Regions from separate parts of the Homo sapiens genome. Here region 2 is reported to be linked to region 1. The links are microRNA targets in miRTarBase. Many come from high-throughput screens and were not tested one by one. Region 1 holds a microRNA gene; the other region holds the end of a gene's coding sequence.

Region 1 (10,239 bases):
TAGCAGCTTCACAGCTATTAATTCAACTCTATTCTCTCTATTCTTCAAACATTTCCTGAGTACCTACTATATGCCAGGTACTGCACCAAGAATAGAAATGTGTTTAAAGAGAGTGTCTAAGAGTTCTAGAGAGAGGCAAAGACACCATTCTTTCCTCAGGATATTTGCAGCCTTCTGCATAGTCCAGCCCCAAACCCAGTGGGCAGGGTTAACCTAGATCACACTATAGGAGAGAAAAAGTAATTTCTTTTCCTCATCCATCATAGGTTCTTTGCTGAGACTCCTAGGAAAAAAAGACAGATTAACAAGAGAAAAGCATACACATTTATTTAATATAAATTTTACGTGACACCAGAGCCTTCAGAAATGAAGAGCCAAAGAAACAGGGAGACCTCCTTATTTTTATGCTAAGCTTGATGAGGAAGTGGATAGCTGTGAAGAAGTAGGATTGGACAAAGCAGGTGTGATCTGATGGTAATAAACCAGGGTGGGTGGGAGGAGGTAGCAAGGTATGTTTGTTCAGATTCTTTTGACATTTCCTTGTCTTTGAAGATAAGGATGTTCATTTCCTCCGGATATATGGAGGGTACCTCTGGAATGAAAGTTTATGACCTGCTTTAGACGAGGGCAAAGAAATCTTTTATGAACTGCATCAGAGGAGAACAGTGAAGGGAGGTGAAAGTGATCTCCCTGCTTCTGTTGTTTCCTCAAATGCCAAGGTACCATATTTTGGAGCAACATGTCCTAAACCTCGTCAGTACCCAGAAATGGAAGTGTCTTCCCTTGCTTGTTAGGGTTATGAGGTTTTTTTCAGTTGTAAAACTTAGCTTTAGAAGAGTCAAAAAGTGGAACATTACAAACCCCTGTTGCCATTAGCACCGATGGGCAGAATTGCACATGAGCACAAAGCCTCTGTTTAACACCCTGAGCAGCTCGCAAGCACCACACATGGGGCTCCTCTGTAGCAAGAGCTCGGAGGAAAGCGGCAAGGACAAGCTGCTTTCAACCACACACTGTTGATCCCAGGGAAACCTGGGTGCCATTAGTACAGAAACCCCACCTGGGGGAAAGGAGTTTTTCCAAGACACAGAACCTCACTCTTAAGAGTACAGAGTCAACTGGAGTCAACTGGCTTTGGTCCAAACCTTGGCTGCGAAACTTCAGTTTTTCTGTGCATGAGTTTCCTCGTCTGCAGAGTAGGGGTGCTAATAGTAGCTCTCTGCTATAGTTTGGATATGTTTTGTTTGTTCCCACCAAATCTCATGTTGAAATTTGATCCTCAGTGTTGGACGTGGGGCCTAGTGGCAGGTGTTTGGGTCATGGGGGCAGATCCCTCATGAATAGATTAGTGCCCTCCCTGGGGCGGGGCATGAGTGAGTTCTCACTCTATTTGCCCCCAACAGAGCTAGTTGTTAAAAAGAGCCTGGCACCTCCCCCTTTCTCTTCTTCCTCTCTCGCCTTGTGATTTATGCACATGCCAGCTCCCCTTCACTTTCTGCTAGGAGTGGAAGCAGCCTGGGGCTCTCCCCAGATGCCCAACCTTGAATTTTTTGAGACATCAGAATCATGGGCCAAATAAGGCTTTTTTCTTTATAAATTACCCAGACTTGGGTATTCTTTTCTAGCAACACAAAATGGACTGACACTGTCTTATAGGGGTGTTGTGAGGACTAAATAAGTGAGTGTATGTGGAGTGCTGAGCACTGTGTTCTGAGCTGAAATAGTCAAGTCCAGCAGCTTGGATGGACAATAAGTCAGGTTGTGTGCTGAAAGCCAGGCAGTGGACTGTCTCCCTGGGTATCAGATGCTCCCTATCAAATGGGAGCTGCAATACTTGCCTCAGAGGGCTGATGAGGATGTAAAGGAGATCACATCAGTTAAGCGCAGAAGCTGAGCAGGTACTTACAAAATCAGTTGTCTCAAACTTAGCTGCATATTAGAATCTCAAGGAGCTTTCCACCATTTGAATCTTCTAAAAAGCTTTGTTGTTATGATATGTATTATTTAAAAATATGTTTATTTTTGTTTCAAATAATTTTAGAGTTACAGAAAGGTTGCAAAAATAATACTGAGAGTTCATATAACTTTTATCCAGCTTCCCCTAATGCGGATTTGCATTCCTATGGTCCAATTATCAAAAGTAAGAAATTAACATGAGTATAATGCTCAGCTAAACTACAGGCATTATTGAGATTTTACCAGTTTCTCTACTAATGTCCTTTATGTCCTCCAAGAACGAATCCAGGTTCCCTTTGCATTTATTTATCAGGTGTCCTCAGTCTCTAAATCCATGGCCGTTCCTCAGGCTTTCCCTGCATTTCATGACACTTTTGATGAGGACTAGTCACGTATTTCATAGAATGTCCTTCACTTGGGGTTTATCTAATGTTTTCCTGTGCTTAGATTGAGGTTATGCATTACTGAGAAGGATACCACAGAAGCCATAGGCCCTTCCCAGAATCTCATAACAGGAAGTATGTGATGTCCATACGTCTTATTACTGGCAATGTTAACCTTCATCACTTGGTTAAGGTAATGTCTGCTGGGTTTACCTATTGTAAAGATAGTATTTTTCCCTTTGTCATTAATAAATAACTTGGGAGAGATACTTTCAGGTTATGCAGGTAGCCTATTTCTCCTCATCTTTTTCCCCATTAATGTTCTGTTCATTTGGTGCATCTTGCCTGCGACAATTACTGCAACGTTCTGAGGATGGTTTCCTAGTCCCTCATTTTTTCTACATTGTTTATTGGAATTTTTCTGTCTTGAAATGCTGTTTCTTCTCCTCCATTTATTTGTTTATTTATTCAGTTATTTATTGAAATTATCATGGACTCATGGATATTTATTTTATTTTATTGGTTTTATAATCCAATACTGACATTGTTTATTTTGGTTCAAACCTAAGACACTTTCTAAAATACCTGTGCCTGAGTTCCTCTCCAAGTCATCCGAAGCAGAGTCTATGGGGTTGGAGCATAGGTATTTCCTTAAAGCTCCCCAACCGCACTAAATGTTAGTTCCCTCACTCTCCCCACCTGCTTCCTCTAAAAAGAAAAAAAAATTCTTCCTCAAATCATTCTGCAGGGCTTGTTCTCAAACTGGCTGTCAGAGTGTGCATGGCAGGCTGCAGCCACTTGGGGAACTGGTTCTGTGGTTATCTCCATTCCTGCCTCCCCAGCCCGCATATCCTTTCCTTCAGCTCACGGGGCCCACAATGGGAACTTGAGTACCAGAATTCCTTTTACAACTGCTTCCTCATGTGGAAATTCCGCTGAGGTTTATTGTAGTTTTCACTGAGGTCAGGTGAAGGAAGAAAAAAACTAGGGCAGTCTTTAGAAAGTCAGGTTTGAGAAAAGACCCAAGGAAGTATGACCTTCAGCTAGGAGTGTCTTTCTAAATGGCATAGTGAATTTAGTGAATTCCAGCTGATGGCAGGCTCACAGCTGGGGTAGATGTTCCTGCAGTTTCCAGCGCTGCCTTCTGAGTCCCAGAAAGCACTTTTCTGCTGCTTGGACAGAGTTTTAACATGTGGAAACAACTCGCTTACATGAATAACTTATCTTGACACCTCTGAAATCACAGTAACCAAATATGTAAATTTAATTCTCTTTTTAGGGGATCAATATGGAGTCAGATAAGTTTTTTTTCCAAAGAGATGGTCTTCCTGAATAAGGAAATTGATCCTGTAGCATCTTTAGCTGGTTTCCAATTGCCCCCTACTCCTAGGTGCCGAATCAATCTTATGATATTTTTAGAAACCTAACTGTTTCTTTAGTCAGATTGATGCCAATAAAATGTCCAAAACTTAGATGAATCAAATTTAAAGTGATTTGTGATGGAATAAAAGCTTAACCCCAAGCATACCATGGCAACATGAAATTGGCATGGTTCCCCCAAATTATGCCATATGAATATGGGAAGATATGTCTCACAAATTCTTATTTTTTTCTTCATAGTGGTCAGCTTCAACCTGAATTTTTGTTAGAAGGCATTTTTTGTGTTAAAAACACCTTCTATTAAAATTTTAATGGGATTCCAATTTCTAGGGTAAGTAAATTAATAAAATCTGCAATAACTAGTCAGGAAAGGATCCAGTGTTTCACTACAGAACATAGAGATAATTCCAAGACGGGCATATTAGAGATGCAAAGTGTTAATTCAGCATAGCATCCAAACCAGGATAAGGAATGTTTAGATGCTGCATGACAAAAATAAATCTCTCTTCCTGGAAGAACTTTAACCTAAGAGGAGAAACAGCTCAAAGGTTTATTGTTGTCAGAGCCAAAAACATGACACCCCTCTTGATAAAAGACTTCGATCCCTGACCCCAGTAGAGTTGCTACTCTAAAAGCTATTTGTGTATTGATCTCCTCTGAAGAAAACGAATAGGTGTCTGGCAGGATGAGCATCTTTGGGAAACCAAGTTATTATACTTAGAGGAGAGCCCAGGTGACCAAAGTGGGAACCCTAGGGCATCAGGCTCTGAAAGATGATTTGCAAGATGCTGGGAAGCCTGGGCCTTTTCTCTTCTTAGTCTCTGCAACAAGGCCAGTTGCTGAGCATAGCTCAAATTAGGAAAGTTTGTCTGCCAAGAAACCTTGACTAATCTTACCATTCATTCTTCAAAAGACAGAAGAGGTGGGCTAGACTGGCCTGTTTTAGAAACCAGTCTGAGACCAAGACTCTTTAGTGCGTAAATATTTATTAACCCTCAAACAAGGGCACCTACCACCCCCACATGTTAATCCTATGCACACCATCTTGAAGAAATGAGCCAGTACTTCCTGTTTGAGGCTGAGACAGAGATATAGAGGCAGAAAAACACTCGGAGACTCTCAGGCCACCAAACAAGGACTGAGGATGTAGAGTTTCTGGACTAAAAGACTGTAGACTTTGAGTACATAGGCCCTCTGAAGCATCAAAAGAAAAATCGTGGCCTCTTGTTTGCTGTCTTCCTTTTTCTCCCATAGGATCAAACTAAGATCATCAACTTTCCAAACTCAGAGAAGAAATTTGCGTTTAGCTGCTAATTCCATATAAATTTAGAAGTTTGCTATTTAGCTGCTAATTCCATATAAATTTCTTTCAACAACATAATTTTTAAAATTATTTATTAAGCACCTACCAGGGACTGTTCCAGGAATAAGACAAAACACTGCCCTCATGAACACCCAATAAACAAGTAAACAGCAACAACAATTCCAGACAGCAATTGATGCTATAAAGAAAATGAATTCAAGTGAGATGAAGTGAGGGGAGCAAGTGTCAGGTAAGGCCTCTCAGAGAAGGATATTACTTGAGCTGACACCCAAAGGTGAGGAGTGAACTCAGAGAGGGTATTCCAGGCAAGTGACCACCATCAAGTGCAAAGGCCCTGAAGTAGGGATGAGCTTTGTAGAGTTGACCAGAAAGGCCAGTATGGTGGGAACATACTGGGAATCCACAAGGCTGGGTGGATTAGGAGAAGACTTAGAAGGGGAGCCACATCATAATGCATCCCAGCAGCCATGCTCTCTGTATAACTGGAAGCCTCTGGAAGCTTAGTGGAGTGGGGAATGGGAATGACATATTTTGTTTTGGTAATATCTCTGCAGCTGCTTATGGTAAATAGACTGTAAGAAGAGTGAAAACAATACTATTGTTGTGACTTATTAATATGTAGGGTCTAAATCTGAGGAGACTGAATGTTCTGCAGCTCATTTTCAATCTCTTTGATGAAAATGATGGGCACTGATTTTATTTCACAACCTCAAAACCTCTCCACTTCCTTATTGTGTAATCAGAAAAACCATTTGTTCAAACTCATTTAACTAGAAAATACAATTTTTATCAGCTTATTAAAGATAACATCTTACCTCAATCAGTCAAAGGAAAAAAAATTTTTTTGCTTTAATCAGTTATCTCAATTTCCTCCTACAGGGATCCCAATCACCCTTCAGTACCTTATCATTATTATGAACCTTTTGGACCTGATGAATGTACAATGTACCTCTCCCATGAGCGAGGACGCAAGGGCAGTCATCACCGCTTTATCACAGAGAAACGAGTCTTTAAGAACTGGGCACGGACATTCAATATTCACTTTTTTCAACCAGACTGGAAACCAGAATCACTTGCTATAAATCATCCTGAGAATAAACCTGTGTTCTAAGGAATGAGCATGCCAGACTGTAATCCCAGGTATTCACTGCATCAGACACCGAGACACTGAACTTCCTGAGCCACCAGACAGGAAAGGGTAGCAGAAAACAGCTTCACTCCTCAGGAAGTACCATGGACAGACGCCTACCAGGGGTGACAAAGCAGTGCAGTTGGATTGTAAGGAAAAATTCCGGAATTAATGCATCCTAATGAATGTTGTCCCCTTCAATGGTGTTACCTTAGGAGCTGAACATTCAATTCAGTTACACCACTATGACTAAAAACAGTTTGGATCTCTTAGTATTGCCTTTGAAACTGCAACATAAGCAACTCAACAATATTAGTTGCATTCCTTTATAGACATACCATGTCAAAGACGTTTTTCTATCAAGTTGTATTCTTTCCTGTTCTATAACCTTTGTCATCTGTTAGACTCTGTATGTGTGATTTGTAAAAAGCAGGCTGAAACTATGGACATGATTTCTGAAGAGCACATCTCCACTGACTTTCATAAAGCAAATGTCCAATATTTATTTATTGAGAGTTTTTTAGTGCAATCTGGGCCAGTATTTTTATAGATTATGATTATGTGGTAATTTATCCTTCCTAACTCTTTAATCCTGAATGATGGTTGGAAATGGCCTAGAATTAGGTTACTCTGTTCACAATGCTCATTGTTAGCATGCAATTGGTATTTGACTTGGAAGTGTTGTGTTGTATTTTTTGAACCCCTAGGCTTCAGGAAAACTGCTCTTTTGTAAAAAGAATAGCGATGACATTTTCTAATGTGCAGAAATGTTCCAAAAGGACAAAATTGAAAACCAAAAACTATGTTATTAAAACAAAAAAATGCTAACAAGAGAAATTTAAAGGTAGTTTTCTTTAGTAATAATTTATGTAAGTGTCCTCTCTTGAGCCCTAGTTTCCTTTTTGGCAGAATGATGTCACTGTACCAGACAACCTCTTAGGTTTCATCCCAAATCTAAACTTGTGGCCTCTTCTTGACCCATTTGAAGACTCTGCACTTGGAGTGATGGGGCCCCAACAGTAGCAGGAACTTTATTTTGGGGAGCCTTATCTACATTCATATTACTTATATCACTCTTGTGGTTAAAACTACACTTCTTCCTGTGTCCACATGGGCTAAAATCTACCCCCTGCTTCTCTCGAAGCATCACCATCCGCCTCTTCCCCAGCCTCTCAACACAAAAACACAGGATACACACACACACACACACACAAAAGACATAGCTCCAAGGGGTTCCCTGGCTACAATAGCAAACAGCTGCCCTTCTGTGAGGAAAAGAGACTACAAGGACATGCCCTATCATTCAACTCATTTATGCTATGAACTGTTTAGACTCACTACAAATCTTCTTAGATTATATTCATTACCATTCCCTGGTCTGAAGGAGTATAAAGGACTTATTTTATTCAGAGCCAAGATAAATTCATATTATAGATTTTTATTTAAACAAGTAATATTGTTCAAAAATAGTCTCTTATAAATATACTAGTGTTTTCTTTACACATGACTTAGAAGGCATTAGTTTCTCTAATGCCAAATTTGAAGGCACCAGCAAATATTATGTATGAAGACTGACATTGTTTTACAGACATGACCTGGCTTATGATAAAAGAAGTTTTATCGCATTACCACTTCTTTTCCCTTTTCTTAATTAGTACACTAACTAGTACTATTAATTACACGGAGTATTGTTGTTAAAATGCAAACACAATCAGGGTACTCACATAACATAAACAAAGTTGATATTGATGTGTATGGCTTGGGCTGTTCAAAGCCAGTAAGATTGAAATGGCCGTCCAAAACATACTGGAATATGTTCTTTAAGTTTTCTCATAGTTTTTAAAGGGACTATGAATTTTATTCCAACACATTGTCTTCCACAGCATGGACTCTGAACACATCATACTTTATCAACATATGAAAAAGTGTATTAATTTTATACAATTTACTTATAGGCCACCTTTATAATCACTTGAAGACGTTATGTTGCTCAAACATAAGTGGCTCCTTTGGCAATTTCTATATTTGTGGAAATTTGGAAAGGCATAGTTTCAACATGCAAGAATGTAATTATATTGCTTCATCTAATAATATCTCACATATCTGTCTATCTTCAGATTTTAGATTTTCTTTATTAAAAAAACCATCATGGTAGCTCCATCTCGTTTGTAACTTCTCCCTCTCAAATACTCAGAAGAATGAAGAGGCCAAATTCAGAAAATCATGGCTTCACTGGGAAATGTTTTAAATCTACATGTAGCTAGGATATGTGATTTCATATTTTTTAAAAATGTGGTGTAAATAAGTGTAAAAAATTACCACTTGCAAAGTGGTTTTATTACAGCGTTAAAGAAAATGACTAGAATTCTGATAGATTGTGCTGATGAACCTGGTTGTGGGCAATTGAATTCTTGTCTTCCCACTACCATTTCATGACTGTCGTCTGAACACTATTCAACACCATTAAATATAAACTCTGATATAAAAGATGACTACAGAACCATGTTTATAGACCTCGGTGATTTCAGTATCTGATTGTGTTTGATGCCTAAGTCATACTCGTTATGTTACATGCCTTTTTCCTCTCTCCCAGCTGTGTCATCAGCTCCCTCCTAGCTTTTAAGACCACAGTAATACAATGCCACAGCTGGTCGATCCATGGCTTCTGTTATTTCAACACAAGAACATTTGGCAGAGGCCATTACAATAGATAGCCATTATGGGCAAAGATACGGGAATTTGCAAACAAAATCAATCACTTCAAATGGCCCATAAAAGGAGGAATCTCAGATTTAATATTCTACGGTAAATATTCACCCAAGAAAGCATACATTAAAAGAACATTAGGAGGTAAATATTCAGCATGCTGCATGGAGACTTAGCTGTGTGATTTCCATTACCGTTAATGGGCATTTGGCAACTAAGTCCCTGTGCTTTGCTAACCCTGGTGTGTACTCCTAAGGGCTACACATAAAACCTGAGCAATTCAGAGACTTCTGAGGTCATCAGATTTCAGAGTAAGATCTTTTCTTTAAAAAAAAAAATAGATGAAAGCAAAACACAACGTATTGTACCTAAAAGAGAAATTTGTGTGGTCTCTCACAATCCTTAGGTTACTACCAGATTTGTGTATCCTTTGTTTTCTGAAGTTCTCTCCATTACTGATCTATTTGAATGACATGAGAATGGAGGGAAATAATCTCATTTTGAAATAAAAACTCCCCTCAAAAATTAAAATTACCGACTTAGAAGATGATAAATGCTAAGTAAAAGTAGAAGGAGAAAGTTGAAATTCTATTAGGATTAAGACAGTGTTATTTAAAGGCACATGCACCCATTTAGTACCTGCCTAAATATTTGCCCTTGTGTAAGAGCAAACTCATTTCAGAAATATATCCTGAATTCCACCAGGGTGATGGTTCAAATTGTTAAATAAACCTACTCTGAAAGAAGGGTCCATGTTCCTATTCTCTCTCTGCAGTGTTGGGAGGTGATGTTAACACTCTACATGTTTTGTATCTGACCCAATCATTTCTTCCATTCTCATTGCTTCTCTCTTAAACCTCATTGTATCTCTTTACTGTCATTTTCTCCCAATTGTCTTCTTTTGTCTACAGTGTGCTCCTAAACCAGCAGTCTTTGGTGCTGTTAAGGTCTTCCTTGTAGGTTTTTAAACTAAAGATCTATCTGGGAAACAGATTTGGGGTAGGTCCTGCCAGAGTAATGACCATGGTAGGTGGGAGGAATATATCTGGCTACCATACAAGGTACTTCAGAAGTACCATTATGGTTTGCCCAGGGCCAAGTGGGGAGTGAAGAAGAGGGGTCCCCAAGACACAGACTTCAGTGCTAAAACCAGGGAAGTCCTGGGCTCCATGACAGTGGCTCACCCTATCAGAAGGCCACGTCAAAGAGAACTATAATAATAAGCCCTGGGGGGCAGGATGTGTGAACCAATTGCCTAGGTGTTAGCACATGCCAGAAGGTACTTTGGAATGGAAAGAGGTGAGAGTGTCTCAAGGTTTAAAAATGAGCAAGTGTAGCCCCTCTTTTGTAGCTCACTCATC
Region 2 (10,245 bases), not on the chromosome of region 1:
TATTTTTAAATTCATGTTCACTTAAGGAGACAATATTATTTTTGAGTAATTAAAAATTAATTTTAGGCCAGGTATGGTGTCTGTAATTCCATCACTTTGGGAGGCTGAGGCGGGCAGATTGCTTAAGCTGAGTTCACTACTAGACTGGGTAACATGGTGAAACCCCATCTCTACAAAAAATACAAAAAAATCTGCTGGGTGTGGTGGTGTGCACCATAGTCCCAGCTACTTGGGAGGGTGAGCTGGGAGGATTGCTTGAGCCCGAGAGGTCAAGGCTGCAGTGAGCTGTGACCTCACTGCTGCACTTCAGCCTGGGTGACAGAGCGTGACCCTGTCTCAAAAAAAAAAATTAATTTTAGATTTTGGAGGGTTCATGACTTCCTGGGCCTGTTCTCCTCTGTCTTGCCTCTGGCTGCACTGCTGCTGAGCCAGGCAGTTGCTGGGCTGACAGGTGGGCGGAACCTGGTCTGTGGACAGAGAGCACTCTCTTCTCCTTGGGGGACTCAGGGAATGGGCAGGAGACCCTGAGGCAGCAGGTCCAGTAGAGGCCCAGCGAGGCTGGGAGAGTGAAGGGGCTGTGGGGCACCCAGAGTCTCCTGTGTCGCTGCATGGCAGCCTCCACATAGCTGTGCCCTCACCCCTGGTTCAACACAGGCAGAAATAACCACACAGAGGGTGGCCCAGGCGCTTCCAGAGTGATAGTGGTGGGTGAGTAATAAGAGTCTTTGAAGAAGAGTCAACTGTAACCCCGAAAGGACAGTCTAGAGCTCAAGTGTCACAGACACACTACAGAGATGGTTCCTGTGATAGTCAAATTCCAGAAAGGTCAATTTGGAGAGATGTCTCAGAACATAGACCATAAATACTCACGAGGAGAGGTCACGAGGGTGGGGATAGACTTGGGGGAAAAGGCCCGAGAGACCTAACAGCAAGGAGAAGCAGTGATTCAACAACGATAGGAAAAAATTCCCCAGAGCTTAAAGAAATATATGCAGATTCCCTTTTTTCTTTCACTACATTCTGGATTGATGGAAAAAAAAAATCACAGCTAAATAATTATGGATAAGATTCCTAAATTCCAGGAATAAAGAGAAAATCTTAAAATTTTTCTAGATTCATGCAGGCCAATACAGTGGCTGCTGAACACATGAAACCTGGTGAGTCTAAGCTGAGTGTGGCCCTCATAGAAAGTGCAAGCAGGTTTTGAAGACAGTATGGAAAAGAGAATGTGAACTATGTCATAAATAATTTTATATTGATTACAAGTTGAAGCATTTTGGATATGTTGGGTTAAATAAAATATATTAAGATGAATTTTGCTTAAAAAAATAAAAAGAAGCAAGGTCTTGATCCATTGTACCCTTTGACCTGTTTCAATGTGATTACTGGAAAATGTAAAATGACGCATGTGACTGGCATTGACATTACAGGGGCTGTGGTAGACAGCAGTCTGTCTCCAAAGGTGAAGACCAGGTAGACATGAGTCTCACTTGCAGTGCTGGACACAGGAAGACAATAGGATTGTAAGAGTTTTAAATCTCGCTGAGATTCATTTGGAGTGAAAGGTAGATATTTGTGTCCAGGAGGAATTCAGAGATGAGCTTTTCTTTATTGCTTCTCTGAGGAGACTGCTTTGGAGTGCCCTGTAATGGAACAAGCATTGGAGCCATGCAGGAGTTGTGGGACAGTAAAAAGGGAAGCCATGGTGAGCCACGCACTTTGTAAATATGTGTATTTGAAGGAACAGTGATATGCTACCTGTCTAATAATGATTCTTAAAATAGGCACACTGCCAGGGAAGTGAGGACAACGTCTGGCAAGGAAAAGTACTCAGTGCTCTCAGCCAAAGCCGCGGCCTAGGTGGGGCTGGGGAGGACGTGAGGAGGAAGAGTCTCGCCTTGAGGGACAGGGATGTAGGGCAGGGGAGTGGGAAAGTGAGGTTTTTCTAAAGGCTTCAGGTTATTAGAGGTAGTAGGTAAATGTCATGGTAGTAGAGTATCTTGGTAGGTCACATAGTTTTTATTTATCTTGTTTTCTTGTGTAATAGAGAAATAGGCTCAGAACTGTGGGTGCTGGAAAGGAAGAGCACACGTCCTGTTTGCTCACCAGCATAGCACACTGCCCAGTGAGCACGTTTCATTGCCTGGCAGTGCTTGGTGTCCACGGTCAACCCAAGCCTGTGCTCCAGTGCCATGTGTCCTGACTGCTGTGGGGATTCTGACTCCATTTTACATACAAGAAACAATTAATGAAACATCTATAGATTATTTCAACTTTGTTTTTAAATGCATGGTTGCAAACCATTTTTAGATTATATTTTTGAAAATGTACATTTGGATAATTTGGTCACTTTTTTCTGTAGCTAAATATTTCTTTATTTGTGTTTCAGATTTCTCTATGAATCATCATCAAGAACTCTGGGAGAACTTTTGAATTCATAACCAAGCCAACATCTCCAGACATGTAAAAATAGGGAAAAGTGATTCAAATTGAAATGCCTGTGTATTTTCCTATTGTTTTTAATGTTAATAACCCATATAATAGGGAAAGGGTGGGATTTTTTTGTGGGAATGTGGGAAGGTGGGGGTTATGGAGGAGATAACTCAAAACTTCTTCAATTTTGCCTAGTGCCTGCGTAAATAATATATTTAATATAAAGGACTCCAGGTATGAATGGTGTAGAAATCCATGATTCCAAGAAAAAACACTTTTCTAGCAAACCTGGTTGTTTTTAAAATGACTTTTATATATGTAATATTGCTTGGAAACTATGAGTAATAAAGCAATGACAACATCCATTTGTTTATTTGAAAGTATTAGGGGCCCGGCGCAGTGGCACACGCCTGTAATCCCAGCACTTTGGGAGGCTGAGGCAGGCAGATAGATCACTTGAGGTCAGGAGTTCAAGACCAGCCTAGACAACATGGTGAAACCCCGTCTCTACCAAAAATACAAAATTAGCTGGGTGTGGTGGTGAATGCCTGTAATCCCAGCTACTCAGGAAGCAGAGGTTGCAGTGAGCTGACGTCGCGTCACTGCACCCCAGCCTGGGCGACAGAGCAAGACTCTGTCTCAAAAAAAAAAAAGAGAAAGTATTACCTTTATGGCCAGGAGTGAGGTGCTGTGATACTCCCTGAGTGGAGAGCCCAGGGCAGGGCCCACAGCAGTCTCTGGGTCCAACCTTCATGTTGCCTCTATGGGTATTGGGATGGGTCCTGTGGCTGTGAACGTGAGCAGCACAGACACCAAGTAGCTCAGCCTAAAGGCAAACACTGTTACTCTGGTCTTTTCTTTCTGAGAGCTGTTCTGGTAGCAGTGGTGCTGACAGCCTCCTAGGCTGCCCTGACCTCTCGCCCACCTGGTGGATGCCAGTTGTTTCATGGCCCCATGCTCCTGGCCCTCTTAGTCAAAGATTCTGTGTCACGGTTGATCCTGTGGGCCCTTGTGGACCACCTCATAGTTGGTTGGAAATTAGTGCAGCTTAAATTTTGTGCTTGTTCTGTCCTCAGCCCCTGAGCAAAAAAGTAAAGAAATTCCAGTGTTTCTGTGCCTGTATTTCTCTGAGACGGTACAAGAAGTGGACTACTTACTGTAGTTATGAGCATTCAGGGTAAGGTTTTGCCAAGGGATCTGAGAAATGGAAGGTGGGGAGTGGAATAATATTACAGCTTAATTCAGATAATTTTGAAAATATGACTTTCTAGACATCCTGGCTGACTAAACCGTATTCTGAATTAGTGAGTGACATTGATAACGGAAATATAGTTCTATCAGATAGAGTCGTTTATTTGGAAGGGTTAGTGCAGATCTAAGACTGGCGACTTGAGTATGTGAGGGAGAGATTGCTGGTCTCTCCCCTGTTATTTATTCTCCTCTTTTTCCACAGAAATACTATCTCTGATTTTGTCTCTGGGTACGTGCCCCTCCTGAATAAAGACCACATTCACCAACATTGCTTGCACCTACATGTGGGCATGTGTCCAGGTGCTTCCAGTAAGATAATAGTGAAGTTGTCATGGGCACCTTACAAGTTATCTGTGTATCTTTACCTTTCTTACATTCTGCCTGGAATGGGGTTGTGATGGATGGAGCTCTCACTGCCATGTTGGACTGTGAGGATCTACAGTTTTGAGCTACATTCCTGAGCCGACATTGTTTAAGCCCCCAGTGTCTTTGGGAGAACTCAGTCTTGACAGTTGAAAGCCATAACTCAAAGCTAGTCTGAGGATGAATCCCTGTGATTGCCACCGGGCACTTGACATTTTAATTAGCACTTCTGCTCCCAGAATTCACCTGCAATGTTCCAACACCAATGTTACTTCTGCACCCAGTTAGAGGGGTAGGGAGAGGTTGGGAGCTGCCCTACCCCTGCTGTGGCACTCACTCCTCAGCCAAAGACTGGCAGAATCCTGGCCGCATGGCCGGGAAGGCAAGTACTCACCACTTTAAACATTTAAATATTCCCTGCATCAGGAGACATTCTTCACCACTCACCAAGACTCAAGGGGAGAGATCCCAGAACAAAAAAATAAATAGCTGTTGGGTGGCCAAAGACAGTAATAATTGTAATTTAAATTATTCTGATTTTCTAGATCAGTGGTTTTCAGGCTTTAATATGCATCAGAAACATCTAAAGTTTGTTACAACGGCTGCTGGGACCCGGCCCCACACTGTCACAGTCTTGAGGTTCATCCACACTGTGGTGGCTTAGCCATTCACCTATTGAGGGTTATTTGTTACAACGGCTGCTGGGACCTGGCCCCACACTGTCCAGTCTTGAGATTCATCCACATTGTGGTGGCTTAGCCATTCACCTATTGAGCGTCGTTTGTTACAACGGCTGCTGGGACCTGGCCCCACACTGCCACAGTCTTGAGGTTCATCCACACTGTGGTGGCTTAGCCATTCACCTATTGAGGGTCATTTGGCTGTTTATCCATTCACCTGTTGATGGTTGTTTGGCTATTTACCCACTCACCTATTGATTCCCCTTTGGCTGTTTATTGATGGTCCTTTGGCTATTGCAGATAAAGTTGCTAGGAACCTTCATGTATACAAGTCTGTGTGGGCTTGTTTCACTGGGTCAGTTTCTTGGAGTGGAAGTTCTGGTTAATATGTTAAGTCTACATTTAACTTTTAAACAAATCTCACAAACTGTTTTCCATAGTTGTTGTAACATTTTATATTCCTATCATCCTCCCTTACAATGGTTATTTTCAGTGTTTTTATCTTCATTCTGTTGGTTGTGTAGTGGTAACTCATGGTGTCTTTAATTTGTGTTGCCCGAGGACTGATGCTGCACACTTCACTTATGTATCTGTGTTGGTGAAATACCAGCTCAAGTCTCTCATCTGTTTTTGTTGTATTATTGCATTGTTTGTCTTGTTGCGTTTTAAGCCTTCTTTAGATGTTCTGGATACAAGTCTTTTATTAGGGTTGGGTATTACAGTATGTGGCTCCTATTTTTATTTTATTTTATTTTATATTTTATTTTTGAGACCGAGTCTCGCTCTGTCACCCAGGCTGGAGTGCAATGGTGCGATCTTGGCTCACTGCAACCTCTGCCTCCTGGGTTCATGCAGTCCTCCTGTCTCAGCCTCCCGAATAGCTGGGATTACAGGTGCATGTCACCATGCCTGGCTAATTTTGTGTGTGTGTGTATTTTTAGTAGAGATGGGGTTTCACCATGTTGGCCAGGCTAGTCTCAAACTCCTGACCTCTGTGCTGGGATTACAGGTGTGAGCCATCGCACCTGGCCCTATTTTAATTTTTTAAAATGGTGTCTTTCAAATAGGAAATTTTAATTTTGAAGAAGTCCTGTTTATCAATTATACTCTTGTAGTTTGTGCTTTTTGTGTTCTATATAAAAAGACATGTAAAAAACCATGTTTATTTGTTGTCCTGTATGAAATAACATGTTTTATTTTGGCTTGCATAGTTAACTGATGAGAATCTTTTTTTTTTTTTTTTTTGAGACAGAGTTTCGCTCTGTCACCCAGGCTGGAGTGCAGTGGCGCAATCTCGACTCACTGCAAGCTCCGCCTCCCGGGTTCACGCCATTCTCCTGCCTCAGCCTCCCGTGTAGCTGGGACTACAGGCGCGCGCCACCATGCCTGGCTAATTTTTGTATTTTTAGTAGAGACGGGGTTTCACCGTGTTAGCCAGGATGGTCTCGATCTCCTGACCTCGTGATCCGCCCGTCTCGGCCTCCCAAAGTGCTGGGATTACAGGCGTGAGCCACTGCGCCCGGCCGAGAATCTTGCTGTTATTTCTACATTGGTGTCTGTGGCTGCTTTTATTATCTCCTTATCGAAACCTAAAAGCTCTGCTCTTGTGTTTAGGTCTGTGATCCATTTTGAATTAATGTTTATGTATGGTATGAGGTAAGGATTTATTTATTTCTTTATGCCATATGGATATCTAGTAGTCCCTGCACCATTAGAAGGTAATATTTTTATCAAGGAACTCCATGACACATCTCTGGACCTGCCCTTCATCTAGACCAGCAGGGCTCAGCTGGGCATGAGTTTGCCCCTCTTTCCGTCAGTGGCACAGGTGTCTTGGTGGGCTGGGTTGCCACAAAATGCCTCAGGTAGGAGGCACGGGACAGCCCTTGCAACAAAGAGTCATTCCAGCCCAGTGGTCAATGGTGTGATGTTGAGAAGCTCTGCTGTGTAAGTGTATGTTTGAGCTGTTATGATTAGGTGTGTAATCCATTTTAAGTTAATCTTGGATGTGGAGTCCAAGTTCAGTTTGTTGTTTTTGGTTTTTCCCCATATGATTATCCCGTTGTTCCTGCACCCTTTCCTCCTCCATGAAATCACCTTGCATCTTCGTCAAGATGCAGTTGGCTATACCTGTGTGGGCTCTTTCTGGAGTCTTTTCTGTGCACTGAGCTATGGCCATCCTTACGCCAATTCCCAGGGTCCTTTTTATTTGAGCCGTACCTGTGTCTTAAAATTGTGAATTGCAAGTCCCCAATTGGCTTTCTGTTTTTTGATGTGGTTTTGGCTTTTCTAGCTCCTTTGCCTTTTCATATACATTGTAGAATCAATTTGTCAATTTCTACAGACGAAAACATGCAGTACAATTCTGATTGTGATTACACTAAATTTACAGATCAAGCTGGGGATTAACTCGCAAAAAGAGTCCGGCCACTTATGGAAAGAAGGCAAAATAATAAGTTATGATGAGAAAGAGTGATATTCCTTTATTATTTGTGCAGGCAAGGGGAAGAGCAGTTCCACTCTTCAGTTTGTGGAGGGAACGCAGGGTTTTACAGAAAGGGTTTGGAATGCGGAAGAGGCAAGGGGGACTAAGAGGTGCCAGGTGGCGTGACTTGCTTCAGTGGCCCTTCTTGAATTATTGTCCCATTTGGTGAAGGGGCCGGCACCATTGTGCATCCTACCAGGTTATAAATTAATCACAGTCAATCTTGTAGTCACTCTTCAGCCAGGAGAGGGTTCTGGCCTTGAAATAATCTTTTGTTGGAAAGAGAATTCCGGAGTTGCCTAGTCCCTTTTAGGACCCGACCCCTGAAGCTTCTAAGCAAATAAATGGCCAGATAAGAGAGCATGGTGTGTGCTTAACTAGTATCTGGGTAAATACATGTGCATAAAGCATGGGAGCATACAGTGGGAAAAGAAAGAAGAGTGGAGGGCCCGGGTTCGGTGGCTCACGACTGTAATCCCAGCACTTCGGGAGGCTGAGGTGGGTGGATTGCCTGAGGTCAGGAGTTCCAGACCAGCCTGGCCAACATGGTGAAACCCCATCTCTACTAAAAATACAAAAAATTAGCCAGGCGTGGTGGCACACGCCTGTAATCCCAGCTACTTGGGAGTCTGAGGCAGGAGAATCACTGGAACCCAGGGGGTGGTGGTTGCAGTGAGCGGAGATTGCACCACTGTACTCCAGCCTGGGCGACAGAGCGAGACTGTTTCCAAAAATAAAAATGAAAGGGAGTGGAGGTTCGCAGCACATTCCAAGGCTGTATTTCGAGATGAAAGGTAACACATATGCAGTTTGTCTCAAAGTTTTATCTTGAGACTGGGAAGGGGAAGAGGAAAAGGAAAAGAAAAAACAGTTTGAAACACAGTTTGAGGCTAGGCTGCTAGGCTGCTAAGCTCTTCGGGCAGAGGGAGAATTGACACTCAACAGTGTTGAGTCGTCTGATCCATGACCATTGTCTAGTTTTTCAGACATTTAATTTCTCCCAATATTTTGTCATTTTCATGATATAGGTCTTCCATATGTTTTATTAAATTTATCCCTACGTATTTTGTGTTTTATAGAGCTGTTGTAAATGGTAGTATTTTTAAATTTTCAACTTCTAATTGTTTATACTGGAATAGAGGAAGGCAGTTTCTTTTTGTATGTTGACTTTGTATTCTACTTTTCTAAGCTCATTGATGACTTGTGGTAGTTTATTTATAGGCTCTGTCATATTTTCTACTCAGACGATCAGGTTATCTAAAAATAAATGCCATTTACATCTTCCTTTCCAGTCTGGATGCTTTTATTGCTTTTCCTTTTTGTGCCGGTGAGAACCTCCAGTAAAATGTAGCCTGGAAGTGGTGTGAGCAGGCACTCTCGCCTTGTTCTGGTCTCCACAGCACAGCATTCAGTCTTCCACAGCTCAATAAACTGTAGGTTGTTTATAGATGCATTTTATCAGGATGAGGAAGTGCCTTTCTATTCCTAGTTTTCTGAGAATTTTTTTCCGTGAGTAGGTGTTAAAATTTTGTCAAATCCTTTTTATGCATTTTTTTTTTTTTTTGAGATGGAGTCTCACACTGTCGTCTGGGCTGGATTGCAGTGGGTGATCTTGGCTCACTGCAACCTCCGCCTTCTGGGTTCAAGCGATTCTCTTGCCTCAACCTCTCGAGTAGCTGGGATTACAGCTGCCTGCCACCATGCCTGGCTAATTTTTTTGTATTTTTAGTAGAGATGGGGTTTCACTATTTTGGCCAGGCTGGTCTCGAACTCCTGACCTCATGATCTGCCTGCCTCGGCCTCCCAAGGTGCTGGGGTTACCAGCATGATCCACCGCGCCTGGCCCACATCTATTAACTAACATATCTACCTTCAAAAAATACTGTATCCCTTCATGAGTTGCACACAAACTTAGCAGCTTACCTCCACCTTCTGTTCGCTGTGCTATCATTGTCATACATTTTACTTCTACATATGTTATTCCCAAAATTCATTGTCATTATTTTTGTTTTAAACTGTTAATTAACTTTTTAAAAGATTTAAACATGAGAGAAAATTGTCTTTTAAGTTTATCCACGTATTCACTATTTCTGGCAATGTTCTTTCCTTTGTGCAGTTTCAGATTTCCATATGGTGTCATTTTCTTTCTTTTAAAGAGCTTTCTTTAATATCTCTTTAGCATATATCTGCTAGTTATGAGTTTTCTCGGCTTTTGATTATCTGGAAGAGTATTTTGCCTTCATTTTTGAAGGTTTAAAAAATTTTAAAGACAGTGTCTTGCTCTGTCACCCAGGCTCAATCATGGCTCACTGCAACCTTGACCTCCTGGGCTCAAGTAGTCCTCCTGCCTCAGCCTCCCAAGCAGCTAGAGCTACTGGCATGTACCACCACATCTGGCTTTTTTTTTTTTTTTTTTTTTTGTAAAGACAGGGATTTGGGCCGGGCGTGGTGGCTCACGCCTGTAATCCCAGCTCTTCAGGAGGCCAAGGCAGGTGGATTACCTGAGGTCAGGAGTTCAAGAACAGCCTGGTCAACATGTTGAAACCTCGTCTTTACTAAAATACAAAAATTAGCCAGGTGTGGTGGCGGGTGCCTGTAATCCCAGCTACCCGGGAGGCTGAGGCAGGAGAATCACTTGAACCCAGGAGGCGGAGGTTGCAGTGAGCCAAGATCGCTCCGTTGCACTCCAGCCTGAGTGACAAGAGCGAAACTTTGTCTCAAAAAAAAAAAAAAAAGACGGGTTTGCCATCTTGCCTAGGTTGGTTTCTGAGGTATTTTTGCTAGAAAGAGAATCCTGCGTTGATATTTTTCTCCCAGGAGTTTAAGCATGTTTTACTGTGCCTTATTTGGTTACTGATGAGCATCCTACTGCCAGTCCCACCTTCGTGTCTCTGTCTGCCTTCATGATCTCTTTATCACTTTTTTGTTTGTTTGTTTTGTTTTGAGACGGAGTTTTGCTCTGTCATCCCAGGCTGGAGTGCAGTGGCGTGATCTTGGCTCACTGCAACCTCTGCCTCCCGGGTTCAAGTGATT

Evidence for each region. Region 1 holds the annotated microRNA hsa-miR-7156-5p (UUGUUCUCAAACUGGCUGUCAGA, at 3,091-3,113, shown strand). A microRNA usually pairs through its seed, bases 2 to 8, with sites in the 3' UTR of a target mRNA and lowers its output. Matches are read on the target gene's strand: a 7mer-m8 pairs with bases 2 to 8, a 7mer-A1 pairs with bases 2 to 7 and ends in A, and an 8mer does both.
Region 2: the mRNA of NCAPG2 is a reported target of hsa-miR-7156-5p. The part of its 3' UTR that is shown has no 7-base or 8-base seed match.

Annotation. Positions count from the first base shown.
Region 1 is chr1:77,057,053-77,067,291 of GRCh38, forward strand. It overlaps MIR7156 (microRNA 7156), which reads left to right and starts at 3,091; the gene lies at 3,091-3,150. ST6GALNAC5 (ST6 N-acetylgalactosaminide alpha-2,6-sialyltransferase 5) reads left to right here. Exons shown (of 5, transcript NM_030965.3): 5 at 5,923-10,239. The coding sequence ends at 6,154.
Region 2 is chr7:158,623,862-158,634,106 of GRCh38, reverse strand. It overlaps NCAPG2 (non-SMC condensin II complex subunit G2), which reads left to right. Exons shown (of 28, transcript NM_017760.7): 28 at 2,390-2,938. The coding sequence ends at 2,441. Among named protein-coding and RNA genes, the nearest start is that of MIR5707, 37 kb to the right of the region's middle.